2 separate regions of the Homo sapiens genome follow, and region 1 is linked to region 2. Evidence: fine-mapped expression QTL. A gene starts in region 2. The other region holds a variant in brackets. All regions are shown on one strand. Distances are from middle to middle.

Evidence for each region. PIP is the estimated chance that this variant, and not a neighbour inherited with it, causes the effect. A credible set is the group of variants that fine-mapping cannot tell apart.
Region 1: its variant is the best candidate, but not a certain one, in a credible set for the expression of PLVAP in whole blood (INTERVAL, PIP 0.63).

Annotation. Positions count from the first base shown.
Region 1 is chr19:17,297,671-17,302,055 of GRCh38, forward strand. ABHD8 (abhydrolase domain containing 8) reads right to left here. Exons shown (of 5, transcript NM_024527.5): 2 at 3,186-3,954. The coding sequence starts at 3,946. It also overlaps a transcript of MRPL34 not described here. Among named protein-coding and RNA genes, the nearest start is that of ABHD8, 3.6 kb to the right of the region's middle. RefSeq lists enhancers at 3,291-3,791, 3,792-4,292. The variant C/T (reference allele first, on the strand shown) is at 2,331.
Region 2 is chr19:17,375,178-17,379,562 of GRCh38, forward strand. It overlaps PLVAP (plasmalemma vesicle associated protein), which reads right to left and starts at 2,165. Exons shown (of 6, transcript NM_031310.3): 1 at 1,743-2,165. The coding sequence starts at 2,111. It overlaps LOC105372298 (a long non-coding RNA gene), which reads right to left. Exons shown (of 3, transcript XR_936362.3): 2 at 4,236-4,309; 3 at 3,613-3,653. RefSeq lists an enhancer at 3,983-4,385.

The DNA of each region.
Region 1 (4,385 bases), 78 kb before region 2:
CAAATAAGAGCTGTTACCTCTCAGTCTAGATTCCTTTCTTTTAGATACTTATGTAACTTCTTTGTTTTCTTTTCTTTTTTTTTTTTTTTTACTTTTTAGTTTTTTGTAGAGATGAGATCTTGCTTATGTTGCCCAGGTTGGTCTTGAACTCCTCAGCTATAGCAGTCCTCCCACCTCAGCTTCCCAAAGTGTTGGGATTATAGGTGTAAGCCACCACACCTGGCCACTTATTTATTTTTCTTTTTTCTTTTTTTTTTTTTTTGAGATGGAGTCTCACTCTGTCACCCAGGCTGGAGTGCAGTGGCACAATCTCGGCTCACTGCAAGCTCCACCTCCTGGGTGCACGCCATTCTCCTGCCTCAGCCTCCTGAGTAGCTGGGACTACAGGCGCCTGCCACCATGCCTGGCTAATTTTTTTTTGTATTTTTTAGTAGAGACGGGGTTTCACCGTGTTAGCCAGGATGGTCTTGATCTCCTGACCTCCTGATCCGCCCGCCTCGGCCTCCCAAATTGCTGGGATTACAGGTGTGAGCCACCACGCCTGGCCTTTTTTTCTTGTCTAATTGCATAGGCTAGAATCTCTAAAACAGTGGTGCTCAACTTGCCTGGCTGTTCAATCTTGCCTTTCTTCCTGGATAAAGGAGAGAATGAGGCCACTTGGTAGTGGTCAAGCCCTGGGGACCAAGCCTTCCATGGAGGGGTTCTTGGTAAGTTTTAGGTTGTATTACCTGCCCTTTAAGCAGGAGTGAATTACAGTAACCCATGCCTTTGTAAATGCCTAGAATTTACAGGATTCCGATGAGCGCTTCCTGAATGCACAGTGTTCTCCAGGGCAGTTGATTTTTTAACTTAGTCTAAGGCAGTGGTTCTCAGCTGGGGGTAATTCTGCCCACCAGGGCACGCTTGGCAACTACTGAAGACATTTTTGACTGTCATGATCAACACTAGATTGTGTAGTTGCATCCAGTGGGCAGAAGCCAGGGATGCTACTAAACATCCTATAGCCCCTCACAGAAAAAAAATAACCTGGCCAAACACGATAGTGCTGGGATTGAACAACACTGCTTTTTTTTTTTTTTTTTTTTTTTTGGGCAGAGTCTCACTCTGTTGCTCAGGCTGGAGTGCAGTGGTGTGATCTTGGCTCACTGCAACCTCTGCCTCCCAGGTTCAAGTGATTCTCCTGCCTCACACCCCCGAGTAGCTGGGATTACAGGCACACACCATCATGCCTGGTTAATTTTTTGTACTTTTAGTAGAGATGGGGTTTCACCATGTTGGCCAAACTGGTGTTGAACTCCTGACCTCAAGTGATCTGCCTGCTTTGGCTTCCTAAAGTGCTAGGATTACAGGCGTAAGCCACTGCACCTGGCCTGAGCAACACTGCTTTAGAACAATGTGAAACAATATCAGTGATGACGGAAATCCCTGTCTGATTACATATGCTAATGGGAGTTTTCAGCCTGGTATAGCGGCTCATGCCTGTTACCCCACCACATCGGGAGGCCAAGGAGGGAGGATGGCTTGAGCCCAGGAGTTCAAGACCAGCCTGGGCAACATAATGAGACCCCCCCCCCATTCTCTATATAATTTTTTTTTGAACTTGAAAATTGGCCTGGTGCGTTGGCTCACGCCTGTAATCCCAGCGCTTTGGGAGGCCGAGGAGGGCGAATCACGAGGTCAGGAGATCGAGACCATCCTGGCTAACACGGTGAAACCCCGTCTGTACTAAAAAGACAAAAAATTAGCCAGGCATGGTAGCGGGTGCCTGTAGTCCCAGCTACTAGGGAGGCTGAGGCAGGAGAATGGCATGAACCTGGGAGGTGGAGCTTGCAGTGAGCCAGGATCACGCCACTGCACTCCAGCCTGGGGGACAGAGTGAGACTCCATCTCAAAAAAAAAAAAAAAAAAAAAAATTAAGGCTGAGCACAATGACTCACACCTGTAGTCCTAGCACTTTGGGAGGCTGAGGTGCAAGGATCACTTGAGCCCAGTAGTTAAAGAACATCTTGGGCAACATAGTGAGATGCCATCTCTATTTAAAAGAAAAAAAAATTTTAAAAATGTAAAAATTAAATTGAAAAATGGGATTTTTTTCAAGGAGAAAAATTAGGATTTTTGTTTGCTTTGTTTTGTTTTAGGAGATAAGGTTTTGCCATGTTGTCCAAACTCATCTCCAATGATCCATCCACAAAGTGCTGGGATTACAAATGTGCACCACCGCGCGTGGTGGCCCCTTTTTTTTTTTTCATGACGGAGTCTCCTTCTGTCGCCCAGGCTGGAGTGCAGTGGCACAATATGATCTTGGCTCACTGCAAGCTCCGTCTCCCGTG[C/T]TCATGCCATTCTCCTGCCTCAGCCTCCCGAGTAGCTGGGACTATAGGTGCCCACCACCACACCCAGCTAATTTTTTGTATTTTTAGTAGAGACAGGGTTTCACCGTGTTAGCCAGGATGGTCTCAATCTTCTGACCTCGTGATCCGCCCGCCTCAGCCTCCCAAAGTGCTGGGATTACAGGCGTGAGCCACCGCGCCCGGATTTTTTTTTCTTTTTTAAAGAGCGACAGGTTCTTGCCATGCTGCCCAGGCTGGAGTGCAGTGGTGTGATCACAGTTCACTGCAGCCTCGACCTCCCAGACTCAAGCAATCTCCTGCCTCAGCCCTTAAGTAGGTGGAACTATATGCGTGCACCTCCTCACCTAGCTAATGTTTGTACTTTTTGTAGAGCTAGGGGGTTCTCCCTATGTTGCCCAGGCTGGTCTCAAACTCCTTGCCTCAAGATATCCTCCCGCCTTGGCCCCCGAAAGCACTGGGATTACAGGTGTCAGTGGCATCTCAGAGTCTCCCTCTGTCGCCCAGGCTGGAGTGCAGTGACACAATCTCGGCTCACTGCAACCTCCACCTCCTCGGTTCAAGTGATTCCTCTGCCTCAGCCTCCCGAGTAGCTGGGACTACAGGCGCGTGCCACCACGTCTGGCTAATTTTTGTATTTTTGGTAGAGACGGGGTTTCACCACCTTGGCCAGACTGTTCCCGAACTCCCAACCTCAGGTGATCCGCCTGCCTCGGCCTCCCAAAGTGCTGGGATTACAGGCGTGAGCCACGGGGCTCAGCCAAAAACTCAGTATTTTGTGACTGTAGTCCCTGCTGACCCCATCCCTCACCCCCACCCCACATGCCAGGGTTCACTTACCCGTAGGAATGGCCAATGAGCACATTTCGCTTCTTGGCATAGCGCTTGAAGATTGCTCGCATGTCCTCAGCCAGCGCATAGAAGGTGTAGGCTGCGGCCACCTGGGGCGCAGAGCTGGCCCCGTGGCCGGCCAGGTCAGGAGCCACCACCTCATAGCCTAGGCGCACAAAGAAGTCCAGCTGCTCCTTCCAGATGGCCAGGGAACCGCCGACACCATGGATGAAAAAGAGCACCACGTCGGCCTGGGCGCCTTTGCAGCTAGTGATGCGCTTCTCACAGTCAATATGGATGGTCCTCTTGGGGCGCCTGGCTCGCCGCCGCCGCCCACCACTGCCACTGCCGCTGCCGCTGCCTGCGCTGCCGGGGGCCAAGCGGCCATCGCTGCCCGCCGGATCTGCCAGCTCCACCTCCAGGGCGGCCGGCGGCTCCCCAGAGCCATTCTGCCCGTGTAGGAGGTCGGCTCGAGGGGCTCGGCCCAGGTTTTCCACCAGCAACCGCCCATTGCGGTACACGGTGATCCGGCGCTGACAGCGGACCAAGCCGGAGAGGTCCCCCTGGGCTGCATCCGAGGATGCGGATGATGGTGGAGGTGGGGCAGCGGCTGGGGCGGGTCCTGCATGCTTCACCCGCAGCACGCGGCCGGGCTTGACCTCTACAAAGGTGTAGCCATCGCTGGACTCGACGCTCTCCAGTGGCCCCACGGCGTTGGGGGGCGTGCCCAGCAGGCAACAGAAGATACCGTCGGTCACCCCGGTCAGCATGGTGTGTCCTGTGAGTGAGGACAGCAGCCAGTTCAGGTGCTGTCTCAATGAGAACCCTGCACCGTGCAGCAGGCACTCCCTGAGCCTTGGGAGAACTGTTTTAGACTCCAGTTTGGGGAGCGCCAGATCAAGTGAGCCACGGCACTGAGATTTTTTTGTTTGTGTGTGTGTGTGTGTGTGTGTGTGTGTGTGTTTTTGAGACAGTCTCGCTTTGTCATCCAGGCTGGAGGGCAGTGGCCGGATTTCGGCTTACTGCAACCTCCCCCTCCTGGGTTCAAGCGATTCTCTTGCCTCAGCCTCCTGAGTAGCTGGGATTATAGGCAGGTGCCACCATGTCTAGCTAATTTTTGTATTTTTTGTAGAGATGGGGTTTCACCATGTTGGCCAGGCTGGTCTTGAACTCCTGACCTCAAATTTTCCTCCTGCTTCGGCCTCCCAA
Region 2 (4,385 bases):
AAATTCCTGGACTCAGGTGGTCCTCCTGCCTCGGTCTCCCAAAGTGCTGGGATTACAGGTGTGAGCTACTGTAGCCGGTCTTCAGCCACTTATTTGCAGCTTGTGTGTGCTGGACCCCTTTGATTAGTGCTGGCACATTCTGGGAGCTTCATGCATAGTAAGTTATGGGCTCAGGACTGCCAATTAACACACAGGAGGAGAATTAAACTTGGATTCCAAAAAGACAATGAATATTATTTTCAAAATTATATCTCAAATATTGCATGGAATATACTTACAGTTTAAAAAAAATGTTGCTGGCTGGGAATGGTGGCTCATGCCTGTAATCTCAGCACTTTAGGAGGGTGAGCCTAGGAGTTCAAGACCAGCCTCAGCAGCATAGTGAGATTCTGTCTCTAAAAAAAAGTTAGCCAGGGCACCAGGTCAGGGCACGGTGGCTCATGCCTGTAATCCCAGCACTATGGGAGGCCGAGGTGGGTGGCTCACTTGAGGTCAGGAGTTTGAGACCAGCCTGGCAAACATGGTGAAACCCCGTCTCTACTAAAAATACAAAAATTAGCTGGCATGGTTGCACACGCCTGTAATCCCAGCTACTCAGGAGGCTGAGGCAGGAGAATCACTTGAACCTGGGAGGTGGAGGTTGCAGTGAGGCGAGATTGTGCCACTGCACTTCAGCCTGGGTGACAGAGCGAGACTCCGTCTCAAAAAAAAAAAAAAAAATTGCCAGGTGTGGTGGTGCCCACCTGTAATCTCAGCACTTTGGGAGGTCCAGGAGGGAGGATTGTTTGAGCCCAGGAGTTCAAGACCAGCCTGATCAACATAGCGAGACCCCACGTCTACTAAAAATAAAAAATGACCTGGGCATAGTGGCATGTCCATAGTGCCAGCTACTCAAAAGGCTGAGGCAGGAGGATTGCTGGAGCCCAGGATGTCAAGGCTTCAGTGAGCTATGCTCACATCACTGTGCTCCAGCCTGGGTGACAGAGTGAGACCCTGCCTCCAAAAAAAAGAAAAGAAATAAAAAAAATTTAGCTGGACGCAGTGCCCCACACCTGTAATCCCAGCAGTTTGGGAGGCTGGGGTGAGAGGATTGCTTGAGCCCAGGAGTTCGAGACTAGCCTGGGCAACATAGTGAGACCTCATCTCTGCTAAATATAAACATATTAGCTGGGTGTGGTGGTGCACGCCTGTAGTCCCAGCTACTCAGGAGGCTGAGGCAAGAGGATCACTTGAGTCCAGGAGATTGAGGTTGCAGTGAGCTGTGATAGCAATTGCACTCCATCCAGCCCAGGATACACATGGAGACCCTGTCTCTTAAGGAAAAAAAAAAAATCTATCGGCCGGGTGCAGTGGCTCACGCTTGTAATCCCAACAATTTGGGAGGCCAAGGCAGGCGTATCACTTGAGGTCAGGAGTTTGAGACCAGCCTGGCCAACATGGTGAAACCCCATCTCTACTAAAAATACAAAAATGAGCCGGTTATGATGGCACATGCCTGTAATCCCAGCTACTCGGGAGGCTGAGGCAGGAGAATCACTCCAACCCAGGAGGCAGAGGTTGCAGTGAGCCGAGATTGCACCACTGCACTCCAGCCTGGGAGACGGAGCGAGACTCTGTCTCATAAGAAAAGAGAGCATTGGTCCTGTGATCGTCCCCCTCTCTTGGATGAGGAAACTCAGGCTCAGAGAGGTGAGGGGGCTTGCTCAGGGTCCCCAGGGCGAGTGTCCTGCCCACAGCCTTACCCGGTCACCCTGGCACTGGCGGAAGCTGGCATTGATGCGGTCCAGGTCGCGGCGAGCATTCAGCCACATCTGCATGATGGCATCCTTGGCGCGGGTGGTGAAGTTGAGCTCCTTGGTCAAGTTGGACTGGGAGGCCGTGAGCCCTAGGAGCTGACTGTATAGGCCCTCGGCTCGGCGCTCGGTGGCCTGCAGGTTGGACTCTGTGCTCACGTGCACGTTGCCATAGACCATGAAGAGCACGAGCCCCAGGATGATGAGGAATTGGATGAGGGAGACGAAGAGGAAGAAGTAGCGCAGGTAATACCAGCAGCCCCGAGAGCTGCCCCCCGCCCGAGCGTAGGACCCTCCGTGCTCCATGGCCAGACCCATTTGCTCGATCCCGCCGTCCGGTGCACCGTCCCTGCTCACCACCAGGCCTGCTCTGGCCCCCGCCTCGCAGGGGGGAGTGCTTATATTACTCCTCTTAATACTTCCTCTGCCTGGCTCCTTCCTGGCCCGGAGGAAACGGGGGCTGCGGGTTATCACAACACTCCCACTCTGGCTGTGAGAAGGCGGGGGTGGGGCTGGGGGCCCAGAGCCAGGGCACCGGCTGGACCCCTCTGATTAATGCTGGGTGGGGCGCTGGCTGGCTGGTCAGGCATTCCTGGCCTCTTCGAGCCTCGCGTTCGCCTTTACTTGCTGGCGGGTGCTGTTCTCAGTACCTGCTGTGATTAGGTCGCTGAATCATGCCAGGTCTGTTGCTGTCTCCCTTGTGTGGCGGAGGAAACTGAGGCACAGGGAGGAGAAGGGGTTGCCTCGGGGTCTCACGCTGTTAGTTCAGCGAACTTGACTTACCTCAAGACAGGCTGGCTACAGACGTGCACCCACTTCACCAGGGCGGTGCTGATTAAGTGCCACAAAACGTGGGAAATGTGCCAGGCACGGTGGCTCACGCCTATAATCCCAGCACTTTGGGAGGCTGAGGCGGACGGATCACCTGAGGTCAGAAGTTTGAGACCAACCCGGTCACCGTGGTGAAACCCCCCGTCTCTACTAAAAATACAAAACTTAGCCAGGTGTGGTGGTGCTCGCCTGTAATTCCAGCTACCCAGGAGGCTGAGGCAGGAGAATCGCTTGAACCCAGGAGTCGGAGGTTGCGGTGAGCAGAGATCGTGCCATTGCACTCCAGCCTGGGGTATAGAGCAAGACTCTGTTTCAAAAAAAAAAAAAAACAGAAAAAGTGTGAAACTCTTAGCTAGCCTAGGGATGGAGAAGCAGTAGGTGATTAGTAATTGCATAGGAGGGCGTCACGGAGGGCTGAGCCATGGATGGCGGTGGCGCTGGCTCCCCAAGCTCTGTCATTGCCCCCAGTGCCCTGTTCACTTAGATGCTCAGTAAATGCTCCAGGAAACTGCAGCACAAGGAATAATGAACTTGGAGCGGGGAAGAGCTGGCTTTGTCCCGGGAGAGCTCGGGCAAGAGGCCTCGCATGTCTGTGCCTCCCTTTTCCCCTTTGTGAGACGGGGTATACCCAGTGCCTCGTCACTCTGTGGCTGTTGTTATGATTAGGATCATTTCCTGCTGGAGGCACTGCTGGGGGCTCCGTGAGATGGTGAATGACAAGTGGTGGATACGTGGGACTGAGATTCCTCCCCCGACACTCAAAACCCCATGGGCGGCCGGGCATAGTGGCTCACACCTGTAATCTCAGCACTTTGTGAGGCTGAGGCAGGCGGATCACCTGAGGTCAGGAGTGCGAGACCAGCCTGGCCAATATGGTGAAACCCCATCTCCACTAAAAATACAAAAATTAGCCGTGTGTGGTGGCGAGCACCTGTAATCCCAGCTGCTTGGGAAGCTGAGGCAGGAGAACCACTTGAACCCGGGAGGCGGAGGTTGCAGTGAAGCGAGATCGGGCCACTGCACTCCATCCTGGGAGATAAGAGAGAAACTCTGTCTCAAAAACAAAAACAAACAAACCAAAAAAACCACGGGAGTTTTCTGGGGTCGCTGTGGGTCACCCCCCAGTTGGGCCTGGAGGGGATTTGGGGACCCGGAAGCAAAGGATTCTGTGTGTCCTGCCTATCTCCCAGGATCAGGAGCTCCAGGGAAACCCTCCCTGGAGTCCCTTCTTTGTTTGCTCCATGCTGGGTGATGCCAGGGCCCCCCAAGAGGTGTCAGTCCCAACCTCAGCCACAAGCAACTCCCAGTCTTGGGAGACAGACTGGGACAGGTACCCCCCACCCTGTGGAGTCAGGGTGGGCTGGAGGAACAGGAGCAGGGAGCCGGAAAGGAGGCTGGACTCCGGACAGGTGACAATCATGCAATTGCTGTCCTCTGTAGGGCAATGTGAAGGCTGGGGCGTGGGGACCCGTCCCCCCATTAGCCAGGGTAACAGAGTGGGGAGGGGTCGTTGACAGAGCGGAGGGGTACTCCAGGGTGGTGCTCAGTGAGGCGAGTGTAGAGTTGAGAAGAAGGAAGTTCCCAGGGGTGGGCAGGAAACCCATGTCTGACCTTTGACCTTTGCAGCTACCCGGTGGTTCCTGATCCTGATTCCGGACCCTTCCCAGCGGCGTCGTCGGCGGCTGCTAGTGGGGGAAGGAGGGCTGGGGGCTGCCACGGGTGCCCAACCAGCCATTTCTCTGGGTTGGCCAGACCCACCCA